Homo sapiens: one gene and its partner. The protein of the gene in region 1 purifies or fractionates together with the protein of each later gene. This does not show direct contact. Each region holds a gene or a part of one and is shown in the gene's direction. Other genes may lie near its edges.

The links.
Region 2: the proteins of TINAGL1 (region 1) and RIOK1 purify together in Homo sapiens (affinity purification with mass spectrometry; 3 studies listed by BioGRID and IntAct, with this or other methods). This does not show direct contact.

The regions. Positions count from the first base shown.
Region 1 is NC_000001.11:31,571,922-31,579,515, forward strand, and holds the start of TINAGL1 (tubulointerstitial nephritis antigen-like isoform 1 precursor), read left to right. Parts: upstream 1-4,593; 5' UTR 4,594-4,674; intron 4,675-5,212; 5' UTR 5,213-5,227; coding exon 5,228-5,537; intron 5,538-5,922; exon of another isoform or gene 5,923-5,976; intron 5,977-6,223; exon of another isoform or gene 6,224-6,267; intron 6,268-7,282; coding exon 7,283-7,346; intron 7,347-7,594. UniProt on the Homo sapiens protein: May be implicated in the adrenocortical zonation and in mechanisms for repressing the CYP11B1 gene expression in adrenocortical cells. This is a non catalytic peptidase C1 family protein.
Region 2 is NC_000006.12:7,413,808-7,418,580, forward strand, and holds the end of RIOK1 (serine/threonine-protein kinase RIO1), read left to right. Parts: intron 1-430; coding exon 431-583; intron 584-3,523; coding exon 3,524-3,634; 3' UTR 3,635-4,230; downstream 4,231-4,773. UniProt on the Homo sapiens protein: Involved in the final steps of cytoplasmic maturation of the 40S ribosomal subunit. Involved in processing of 18S-E pre-rRNA to the mature 18S rRNA. Required for the recycling of NOB1 and PNO1 from the late 40S precursor.

The DNA.
Region 1 (7,594 bases):
CTCATGTTTATATCCCCTCAGTGGTCAGAAGACAATTCAAGCCCCTTCCTCCAGCCTGTCCTGCATGATCCGGCCCCAGCCTTCTCCCAGCCCCTTCCTGCTCCTCTGTGCACCTCGCTTGCTGCACTCCGGATGCTCAGGGCTCTCTCCTGCTTCTCAAGCAGACCAACTTGTGCCAGGCCTCAGGGCTTTTGCTCATGCTGATCCGGCTTCCTGGGATGCCTCCCCTGGGCCCTGGGAATGGCTGCTTTCTTCTCATCCCTCAGGTGTCAGCTCAAACGTCATCTCCTCTCTGAGACCGCCTTGACCAGCACATTACACCAGGTTCTTACGCTATGTGCATATCTTCAGAACGCTTCACATTTTGGAATGACTTCTTGATCTGTGGGTGGGGGGGCGGGGGGATGGTTTGCTTATGTATTTGTCTATCTTCCCGTTGTTATTATTATTATTATTATCATCATCATTATTTGAGATGGAATCTCACTTTGTCACCCAGGCTGGAGTGCAGTGGCACAATCTCAGCTCACTGCCACCTCTGCCTCCTGGGCTCAAGCAATCCTCCCACCTCAGCCTCCTGAGTAGCTGGGGCCATAGGTACATGCCACCATACCCAGGCAATTTTTTTAATTTTTGGTAGAGACAGGGTTACACCATGTTGCCCAGGCTGATCTCAAACCCCTGAGCTGAAGCAATCCACCTGCCTTAGGCTCCCAAACTGCTGGGATTACAGGCATGAGCCGCCATGCCTGGCCTCTCTTCCCATTAGACTGCAAACTCCACAATAGCAGGAACTCCATCTGTTTGGTTCAACAATGTACACTCAGCACCTAGCACAGAACCTGGCACATCGTAAATGCTTAACAAGTATTTGTTGAATGAATGAGAAAATCAAATAGTAAAGCATGCCATTGCGTGGCGCAACACACTTCCACATGGCCTGGAATTTTGTCTGCTGCAAGCTCCAGCGTGCTATGACAGCACCACACTCTGACTGTCATGCAGCCCTTGATGTGGGACTTTCTACAAAACAGTCCATGAGCCCTGGGAAGCCCCAACATATCACAACATGGCCCAACCGGCTACAGTATTAGGCCTGGACAGGGTCTCAGATGCAGTCCCAGGGAGCACTGACCTGAGCTCTGGACATGTCCCACTGACCACAGGGAACCACAAGGAGCCCCAGCCTTGGATGGGGTGCTGTTTGGGCCCTGAGCATCTGAACTCCCAGGCCTCAAGTATCAGGTCCTCGGCTAGGGACCTGAGGTGAGCAGACAACAGGTCTTTGTCTTCCCAGAAAGCCCTGCTCAGCTCACAGAGGAGAATGGCTGATTCCGAGCATTTAGAGCAGTTGTGAAGTTTGTGGGGTGTGGGGAGCTCTGGGACTCCATAGAGAGGAGAGCCCTCTGCTCTGCCGTGTGTTCTTAGGCTTGTCACTGTCCCTTTCTGGCTTCACCTCCCTCTGTAAAAGTAAGAGAATACCAGAGGGCCTCCAGGGAGCATCTGGGTACAGGTTGGTACCAACGCCCAGAGAGGGGCTGCGCTGCCGGGGGTCCGGAGTAAGGGAGGACAAAACCACCACAGGGACCTAGGCTACCTGCCTCTTGAAAAGCCGGAAGGGCTCAGAGGGGGAAGTCTCGCTGGTGTCTCCTCCTCTGCTGCTCTGTCCCAGGCCCTTGGATAAGGCCCCACTTTGCTCAAGAATAAGTCATTGAGTCGGCCAGGCATGGTGGCTCATGCCTGTAATCCCAGCACTTTGGGAGGCTGAGGCGGGCGGATCACAAGGTCAGGAGATCGAGACCATCCTGGCTAACATGGTGAAACCTCATCTCTACTAAAAAAAAAATACAAAAAATTAGCTGGGCCTGGTTGTGGGTGCCTGTAGTCCCAGCTACTCAGGAGGCTGAGGCAGGAGAATGGCTTGAACCCAGGAGGCAGAGCTTGCAGTGAGCTGAGATCACGCCACTGCACTCCAGCCTGGGCGACAGAGCGAGACTCCATCAAAAAAAATAATAATAAGTCAATGAGTCACTAGGAGTCACTAGGAGGCAAAGGGTCAAAGGGTCATGGAAAAGGAAAGTGGGGGTGTCCAGCACCCCCGGCCCTGCCCTTTTCCTCCTCGGCCAAGGAACCCAGTGAGTCACAAAATTCCACTGGGGCGGGCTCTGTGCCAAGCTGAGTGATGGTGGGAGGCTCTGGCTCTGCTCCCATCCCCTGCTCTGAGTCCCTGCCTCTTATGCACAGACAGGCAGGCAGACAAGGACAGGCAGATGGCCACAACTCCCACACAGATACACAGACACCTCTTAGACAGGGAGGCACAGGCAGGACACACACACAGACATACAAGCCAACAAGTGCACAAATGCAGGCAAACAACACACGCTGGCAGACAGACAGATCCATAATGGACACAGAGACAACATCCAGACAGATACACACACACAGATGCACAGGTATGTAGCAGATGGACAGGTAAATGGATAGACAAGCAGACAATCAGTCAGACAAGGACAGGCAGATAGCCAAAATATCCAGACTCACAGATACACAGGCACATAGCAGATAGACAGGTAAACACACTTCGGAAGGCCAAGGCAGGCGGATTGCTTGAGCTCAGGAGTTGGAGACCAGCCTGGGCAACATGGTGAAACCCCATCTCTACTACAAATACAAAAAAAATTCAGGCAGGCATGGCGGTGTGCACCTGTAGTCCCAGTTACTCAGGAAGCTGAGGTGGGAGGATTACTTGAGCCCAGGAGGTCAAGGCTTCAGTGAGTCGAGATCGCGCCACTGTACTCCAGCCTGGGTGACAAAGTGAGACCTTGTCTCAAAAAAAAACAAAAAACAAAAAGCAAAAAAAACCCAGACGATCAGATGTGGACTGACAGACTCAAGCAGAAGCAGAAACACCCCCACAAACACCGCAACTCAGATATACACATGCATACATGCACACAGAGATAACACACCCAGACTCACGAGGGTAGCCTATGCGGTGTGATTTTGGGCAAAAGAGAGGCCAGATGTCTCTAAACAAGCCCCCAGCCCCAGAACCATGAAAAAGTAGGTACCATAAAAGTAGGAACTCTGGACACGAACTCTTTTGAAAGAAAGCAGCTTTCATCTCTTACCCTGAGGATATGACATTTACCAATACCGAGGGGCCCGTCCTGCAGTAAGATGAATGGAGTTTAGATAAGAAAAGAGACTTCCCAACCAGGAGCACGTTGAGACCTGTAGTGGGTGACTAAGGGTGACTAGGGGTAAAGGAGTGGGCTGGTGGCAGGCAGGGAGCCTGTGTTCTGGCTGCACGACCTCAGGCAAGTGCATTCTTCTGAGCCTCAGTTTCCCACCTAGGCTTTGTCCTCCCAGGTCCCTGCAGGGAGCAGATGGGCAGCTCCTGGGTGTGTTAGTGCCAGTGCTGGGGCCCCCGGATATTATCCCTCCACCCCCACCACCAGGGCAGGACCCCCTTGGTGACTCACCACCCAGTGGTCCATGGCAGGGGTAACCCAGCCACAGGTGCCGGTGATCCTCGGCTCTCTCCCTTCCCCCAGGGTCTGGCCAGCTGAGGATGCCCCTTGGTTTGGGGGAGGTTTGCAGGGAGGTCAGTGGGAGGGCAAAGGGAGTCCCTGATGCCTTCCCCGGGGCCACATGTGAGGCTCAGGCCTGGGCCTGGGAGGGTTTGTCCAGGTGTAGTCTCTTTTATCCTCTTTGCTGGTAGAGACCTCTGGCCTGGGCCCAACCTGTTGAAGAGAGGGCGTTGCACAATAGGGAGGTAAAAGGTGACGGCAGACCTGGCGGGACAGAAGCCCCATTGTTTGGGTCCCAGGCCAGCCTGGGCAAAGAAAGGTTTATGCCTGCGGCAGGAAGGAGGGCCTCTGCAGGGGGTGCCAGCTGGTAGGGCCCTTGCCTTTGGACCCTTGGAGGGGGACAGGTGCCAAGCAGGATGCCCTTGGGTTTGCTAGAGAGGGCAGTGCTCGTCTAGGGGCCCAAGCAGGCAAGGGAAGGCAGACTCAACAAGGGATCAAAGGGTGCAGAGGCCACCCCCACACCCTGCCCACCTCCCAGGGATGAGCCGCCCAGGGCACCTAAGGATCATACTCCTGGAATTCCAATCATTCCTAGGAGCTGGGGTGGCTAGGGGGGCGGCACCCAAGCCTAGGGGGCACAGTGGAGAGGGGTGTGCATGGCTATTTTTATTACCGAGGGGTCAGGAGAGGCTTACAGAATTTTGCCTCACATGCCCTCCCCATCATTTCCCAAACTTGTGTCCATAACCCAGAGCTCGGCTGCCCATATCCCCCCTTCTCCACCAGAGCCCCTCAGCTCCACAGGGATGCCCACTGTGAAGTCCTTCCCAGTGTGAAACCGCAATCCTTCCTGCTTGGGGTTCCCCTAAGGGAACGGCTTCCGCCACAGGAGACCCAGCCAGGACAATCGTGTGCTTGTCGTTTCTCCACCCTGCAAGCCCATGAGTTGTGGGGTAGTTACTCCAGGTACAAGCCAGGCGCCCCTCCCTTCCGCCACTGCTGGGGCGGTGCAGAGGGCGGGCGGTACAAAAAGCGCCCCGCCCCGCGCTCCTCTCTTGACTTTGAGCGTCCGGCGGTCGCAGAGCCAGGAGGCGGAGGCGCGCGGGCCAGCCTGGGCCCCAGCCCACACCTTCACCAGGTAGGGACGCTCCCCTGCTCAGAGGGCGGAAGGTGTAGACAGAGAAGAAACAGGGGGAGGGGGCAGGTAGAGGAACCAAGACAGATGGCAGAGAGAGGGACAGTGGAGGGGGACAGAGGGACACAGGAACAGAAGAGAGGTGTACCCAAAAGACCGGGGGAGACAGGAAAGCACAAAGTCAAGGACCCAGGTCAGGGATGGAGGCTGCTGGAGGGCAGAGAGACCTAGGACAGGAGAGAAGACCTTGGGTCCACAGGATGAGTGTTGGGTGGGAGCACCAAGAATGCCACCACCCTCATTTCCTTGTCCTTGAAGGTCCCTGCCTAGGTCAGGGAGGGGCTCCGTTTCTGCCCAGTCCCCATCCCCCTATAGCCAGGGCCCACACACTGGGGCTCCTCTGCCCGTGTCCTGCCTGGGGACTCAGGAATCGGGATCTCCCTCCCTGCTGGGCCCTCTTGAACTCACAGCTCCAGGAAACTGGGAGACTCATCCCTGGTGTTCCAGGGAGTCTCTGCTGCCCACCATCTCTGCCCCCCAGGGCCCAGGAGCCACCATGTGGCGATGTCCACTGGGGCTACTGCTGTTGCTGCCGCTGGCTGGCCACTTGGCTCTGGGTGCCCAGCAGGGTCGTGGGCGCCGGGAGCTAGCACCGGGTCTGCACCTGCGGGGCATCCGGGACGCGGGAGGCCGGTACTGCCAGGAGCAGGACCTGTGCTGCCGCGGCCGTGCCGACGACTGTGCCCTGCCCTACCTGGGCGCCATCTGTTACTGTGACCTCTTCTGCAACCGCACGGTCTCCGACTGCTGCCCTGACTTCTGGGACTTCTGCCTCGGCGTGCCACCCCCTTTTCCCCCGATCCAAGGTGGGCACTAAGATGGCCAGGAGGGTGGGTCACTTTGTCCACCTCAGACTCAGCAAGGCTCAAGAGCAAAGCTGATGGATGCACTGACATTTCCAGGGGAAGCTCTGTAGAATCTGGGACTCTTCCCTGCCCCTCTGGGAACTTTACTCTCCAGCAAGACTGAAGAAGCTCCTTGGTTAGAATTCTAATTTGGCCCAGGGAAAGGGCAACCTCCCACATTTTCTCCCAATCCTGTCTCTTTTCCAGACACGGAAGGTGCTGGCCGCACCTGCTGACTCACTCTTGGGCTGATAAGGCACATATGGGTTGGTGAGGGTCATCTTAGCCATTTTTCTGCCTTTGCTGAGGATTCTAGGATCCTGTGCCCCGAGATGGCTGCTCATACCTGGGAGATGGGTCAAATCTTTTCCTGCTTTCAGCCTCACCATCATCCTTTTCCATGCACTTGCCCCTGTCCAATAGGAGAATCACTTGCGTTCCTTCCCACAGTTCCATGGGGCTTGGGCCGGCAGACTGCATACCTGAGCTGTCATCTCAAGAGTGCTGTGTTATCTTAGGACGGTTGCTTACCTTCTCTGGGCCTTGGCTTCCCCATGCTCCTCCCACTCCCCATCTCCAAGCCCTAACTTATTTAAATGGAAAAGGATCCCAGGAATGTTGTGGCTGGCATCCAAGTAAAGTAAGAGGAATCCAGGTTGGAATCATTGAAGAACTTCCCAAACAGCAGTTGGTGTGTGACCCTGCAGGATTTGTCTTCAGTTATAGTTTAATTTCAGTGAGAGCTGGTGTGTGTGTGTGTGTGTGTGTGTGTGTGTGTGATGTCTTCAGTTATAGCTTAATTTCAGTGAGAGCTGGTGTGTGTGTGTGTGTGTGTGATATCTTCAGTTATAGTTTGGCTTCAATTTCAGTGAGAGCTGGTATGTGTGTGTGTGTGTGTGTGATGCCTTCAGTTATAGTTTAATTTTAGTGACAGCTGGTGTGTGTGTGTGTGTGTGTGTGTGATGTCTTCAGTTATAGTTTAATTTCAGTGAGAGCTGGTATGTGTGTGTGTGTGTGTGATGTCTTCAGTTATAGCTTAATTTCAGTGAGAGCTGGTGTGTGTGTGTGTGTGTGTTGTCTTCAGTATAGCTTAATTTCAGTGAGAGCTGGTGTGTGTGTGTGTGATGTCTTCAGTTATAGTTTAATTTCAGTGAGAGCTGGTGTGTGTGTGTGTGTGTGTGTGTGTGATGTCTTCAGTTATAGCTTAATCTCAGTGAGAGCTGGTGTGTGTGTGTGTGTGTGATGTCTTCAGTTATAGTTTAATTTCAGTGAGAGCTGGTGTGTGTGTGTGTGATGTCTTCAGTTATAGTTTAATTTCAGTGAGAGCTGGTGTGTGTGTGTGTGATGTCTTCAGTTATAGCTTAATCTCAGTGAGAGCTGGTGTGTGTGTGTGTGTGTGTGATATCTTCAGTTATAGTTTGGCTTCAATTTCAGTGAGAGCTGGTATGTGTGTGTGTGTGTGTGTGATGCCTTCAGTTATAGTTTAATTTTAGTGACAGCTGGTGTGTGTGTGTGTGTGTGTGTGTGATGTCTTCAGTTATAGTTTAATTTCAGTGAGAGCTGGTATGTGTGTGTGTGTGTGAGACAGAGAGAGAGAAAGAGAGAGAATCTTGGAAAGGTTCAAGGTACCTGACCTCCAAGGACCTGGCCAATTAGCCCATCCTCTCTGGTTCTGGTTCCACTTCTCTTCTCTTCCCTTCCAACAGGATGTATGCATGGAGGTCGTATCTATCCAGTCTTGGGAACGTACTGGGACAACTGTAACCGTTGGTGAGTGTTTGGAGCTTAGAGGGGTCTTGCTTTGTGAGCCTGTGGCTGACAGACTTGGTTCAAATCTTATCCCTGACCCCTTTTGCAAGGGAGAAGTCTTTTCCCTTCTTTGAACCTCAGTTTCCTCATCTGCAATAGAGGAATTTTAACACTGACCAAGTCAACTTATCTAACATCATTCCAACAACATTCCTCAAGCATGGCCAGCCATGGGTGCCTGGCCCAGGGGTCACCCTTGAACTGAGATC
Region 2 (4,773 bases), on another chromosome or scaffold:
TCACATATTGTTTTCCCTCCCAATTGGATTAGTTTATTGCTAGAAATGTGGTTCACAGGAAAACAGCTGTGAAGTTATCCATATAAATCTTCATTTTCTACCTCTATGTATATTTTGCCTCTTTCCCAATCCCAACTAAATGCTCCTGATTAGCTGAAAGAAGGAGAACAGCTCTGTTGTTGATCTAGGTCACGCAGTAAAGCCCTGGTTCCTTCATTTGAGTATGTTCTGGAGCCTTACTTGGAGTGGCTACTTTCATGTTTCCCTCCTGATGTTCATTCTGGTGTTTTGATGTTTCAGTACAGGATGTTAGTTTTTAACATATATTTGCGAGCCTAAAATCTGAATTCTGGCATTAACACATTTAACAACAACACATAACTTGGTTTGTGTGTTGTTTAGAATAACATGGTTCTTTAATAATTTCAAGGTCCCTGCACTCCTAGAAAATCAAGTGGAGGAAAGGACTTGTTCTGATTCAGAAGATATTGGAAGCTCTGAGTGCTCTGACACAGACTCTGAAGAGCAGGGAGACCATGCCCGCCCCAAGAAACACACCACGGACCCTGACATTGATAAAAAAGTAAGCAATGAAATACCTTCCCCTTTTCTTTAGTGTGGGAGCACAGCCGCTCTTATTTCTCTTTGCTCAAGGATCTAGCTAGATTATGATGGCTGAAAACATTATTGATAAGTACCTCTAATTACAGTTTTAATACCTAAGTGTGAACTTGACTTTTGGTGGTAACATTATCTTGAGATTGGGCTGCTCATCAGAGCACCTTGGGCATTGCCTAGAGAGAGCACGCACTAAATTCAGTACATTTCACATGAAGTACAAGTGATGTTAGAGTTGACCCAGGGTAAATACTGAAGAGCCATTTCAGGGGGATTTATAGCCCAGCTTGATGTTTCTGGAATCTGAAAGACCATATAATAGTCCCCCCATCCATGCTTTCAGTTTCTACTGTTTCAGTTCCCTGCAGTCAGCCTTGGTTTGCAAATATTAAATGGAAAATTCCAGAAGTAAACAATTTATAAGTTTTAAATTGCTCACCGTCCTAAGTAGTGTGATGAAATTCATGCTGTCCTCCTCCATCCTGCCTGGAATGTGAATCATCACGTGGTCCAGCGTCTTCACACTGTCGACACTCCCCACCCGTTAGTCACTTAGTAGCCTTCTTGGCTATCAGTTCAGCTGCTGTGATGTTGTGGTGCTTGTGTGCAAGTAACCCTTACTTTGCTTAATAATGACCGTAAATTACAGGAGTAGTGATGTTGGAATTTCAGGTATGCTTTAGAGAAGCCATAAAATGCTTCCTTTAAGTGGAAAGGTGACCATTCTTGACTTAACAAGGAACTCATGCCTGTAATCCTAGCACTTTGGGAGGCCAAGGAGGGCGGATCACTCCAGACCAGTCTGGGCAATAGAGTGATACCCCGTCTCTATTAAAACATTGGTGATGAGCACCTGTAGTCCCAAATACTTGGGAGGCTAAGGCAAGAGGATCCCTTGAGTCCAGAAGTTTGAGGTTCTAGTGAGCTGATCATGCCACTGCACGCCAGCCTGGGTGACAGAGTGAGATTCTGTCTCAAAAAAATAAATAAAAGGAAAAGAATCATATGCTGAAGTTGCTGGTGAGAATCTTTTATCCGTGACATTGTGGAGAAGGAAAAAGATGTTTGTGCTGGTTTTGCTGTCTCACCCCAAACTGCAAAACTTAGGACCATAGCATGTGATAACTGCTTAGTTAAGATGGAAAAGGCATGAAATTTGTGGGTGAAAGACGTAAACAAAAACATCTTCCAGTTGATGGCACCATGTTGCACCAGAAAGCACTGAGCCTATACGAAGGTTTCAAAGGTTTCAGCAAGGGTTCCCCTGAAATGAGTGCCACCAGGCCATTTACTGTAAGGAATAGTTACACAGATTCAGGAATAGGTTTGGACTAAAAAATAGAAAAATTACCAGAGAGGCTGCATCTGCCAATGAAGAAGCTACTGTCACATGAGTATGATACTGTGGGATATTTGGAGAGAGAGACCACATTCAAATAACTTTTACTATAGTATATTGTTACCATTCTGTTATTAGTTATTATCTCTTACTGTGCCTAATTTATAAATTAAACCTCATCATAGGTACGTATGTATAGGTAGAAGCATAGTATATATAGGGTTTGGCACTATCCACAGTCTTAAGCATCCACTGGGAGTCTTGGAACATATCCCCCATGGATAAGAAGGGACTCTTGTATTTCTTTAATCCCTAGCCATAGACATAGAGACACTGCTGACTGAGTGCTATGTGACTATTATTATTCCATCTTAGTCTAATCCTTTAAACCTTATACAATGTGGGTCCCAAGACTTCTGAGGGACATACTCAGCTGCTAGCATATTTTCTCATATGTCTACTAGAAACACATATTTTGTCTCTTTCCAATGTCTATTTCTGTTAGAATATGGAACTTGTAAAGAAAAGTATTTGCAAACATTTAATAACATTCTTAGGGATATTTCTGTTTGGCTGTCTTCACATTTCTATTAAGGAAGCTCAGCTGGGCGCGGTGGCTCACGCCTGTAATCCCATCACTTTGGGAGGCCAAGGCAGGTGGATCACGAGGTCAGGAGATCGAGACCATCCTGGCTAACATGGTGAAACCCTATCTCTACTAAAAATACAAAAAATTAGCCGGGCGTGGTGGCAGGCGCCTGTAGTCCCAGCTCCTTGGGAGGCTGAGGCAGGAGAATGGCGTGAACCCAGGAGGCGGAGCTTGCAGTGAGCCGAGATCACGCCACTGCATGCCAGCCTGGGCGACAGAGACTCCGTCTCAAAAAAAAAAAAAAAAAGAGGAAGCTCAAGGCCGGTTATGGTGGCTCATGCCTGTAGTCTCAGCTACTGGGGAGGTTGAGGCAAGAGGATTGCTTGAGCCCAGGAGCTTGAGGCTGCAGTGCACAATGGTCATGCCACTGCCCTCCTGCCTGGGTGACAGAGTGAGTCCCTGTCTCTAAAAAGAAAAAACTGAAAGACAGTTTTCACCCCAAGTTCCTCCACCAACCCATAATCATTTTCTTTTCTTTTCTTTACATTACACTCACTTTTATTCTTCTATGTGTGTATTTTATTTAGTTATAATCATAATAATACTCCAGGTGGGTGCAGTGGCTCATGCCTGTAATCTCAGCATTTTGGGAGATCAAGGTGGGTGGATCACTTGAGCCCAGGAGGTCGAGACCAGCCTGTGCAATCTGGCGAAGCCCCATCTCTACCAAAAAATACCCCAAAAAAACCTAGCCAGGTGTGGTGGTGCACACCTGTTGTCCCAGCTACCCAGGAGGCTGAGGTGGGAGGATTGCTTGAGCCCAGGAGGTGGAGGCTGAAGTGAACCATGGTCACGCCACTGACTCCAGCCTGGGCGACAGAGCAAGACCCTGTCTAAAAAACAAAAAACAAAAAACAAAAACAAAAAATGCATACTCCAAATGAATGAAAGTTGGCTTTTTTGTTTGTTTTTTACAGGAAAGAAAAAAGATGGTCAAGGAAGCCCAGAGAGAGAAAAGAAAAAACAAAATTCCTAAACATGTGAAAAAAAGAAAGGAGAAGACAGCCAAGACGAAAAAAGGCAAATAGAATGAGAACCATATTATGTACAGTCATTTTCCTCAGTTCCTTTTCTCGCCTGAACTCTTAAGCTGCATCTGGAAGATGGCTTATTGGTTTTAACCAGATTGTCATCGTGGCACTGTCTGTGAAGACGGATTCAAATGTTTTCATGTAACTATGTAAAAAGCTCTAAGCTCTAGAGTCTAGATCCAGTCACTGACTCTGTCTGGTGTTGACAGAGGATTTATTTAAGCTATTATTTTAATAAAGAACTTTGTACATTTTTATTTTTATATTTTTTTCTCTTACAAATATGTTTTTGGAAGCATGATAAATGTTTAAATGTAGTCAACATCTGTAACTCTTACATGAGTGTCCAGAGGCACTCATGGGAAAATTGGTTTTGCTTTCTTTGTACACACCAGAGACCCATCTGAGGTCATCTGATTATAAGGCCATGTTTATATAAAGGGAATTTCACCCACAGTTCAGCTGGCTGTTGATTTTCACTGCAACTCTGCCTTTGTGTGTATTGGCGATCATTTGTAATGCTCTTACACTTCGTCTTTAATGTTCTTTTTGGAGTTAGGACCTCTCAGTTCATAAAGTTTTTTACAATTCAATCATTTGGCATATTCATTCATTCATCAAAAATTTGAGTATTTTAGTTGCTGGGGATACAGCAGAAAACAAACTAGACAAAAATTACTACCTTTGAGTAGTTTACATTTTGATAGGAAGATAAGACATTAACCAAAGTAAGTAAAAAGCAGTGTATCAGCAGGTGATAAATTCTATGGAGAGAAATAATGCAGAGATGAGAGGGCGCCTATAGATGAAAGAGTTTGCAGTTTAAAATAGGGTTCTTGGAAAGGCCTTACTGAGGGCTGATATTTGAGCAAATACTTGAAGAAGGTGAATTGTTTGCATAACAAGAAGGAAGAACATGCCAGGCAGAACAACCAGCAGTTGCAAAGCCCTGAGGCAGGAGTGTACGTGACATCTTCCAGAAACAGGGCTGAGACATCATCATCAAGGGAGAAAGTAGTAGATGCAATCAGATAGTGTACGGCTGTGGGAGGGTTTTGGCAGGGGAGTGATATGATCTGACTTCTGTTTTAAAAGGATTACTCTGGCCTCTGTGGAGAATTGATCAGGAAGCAAGG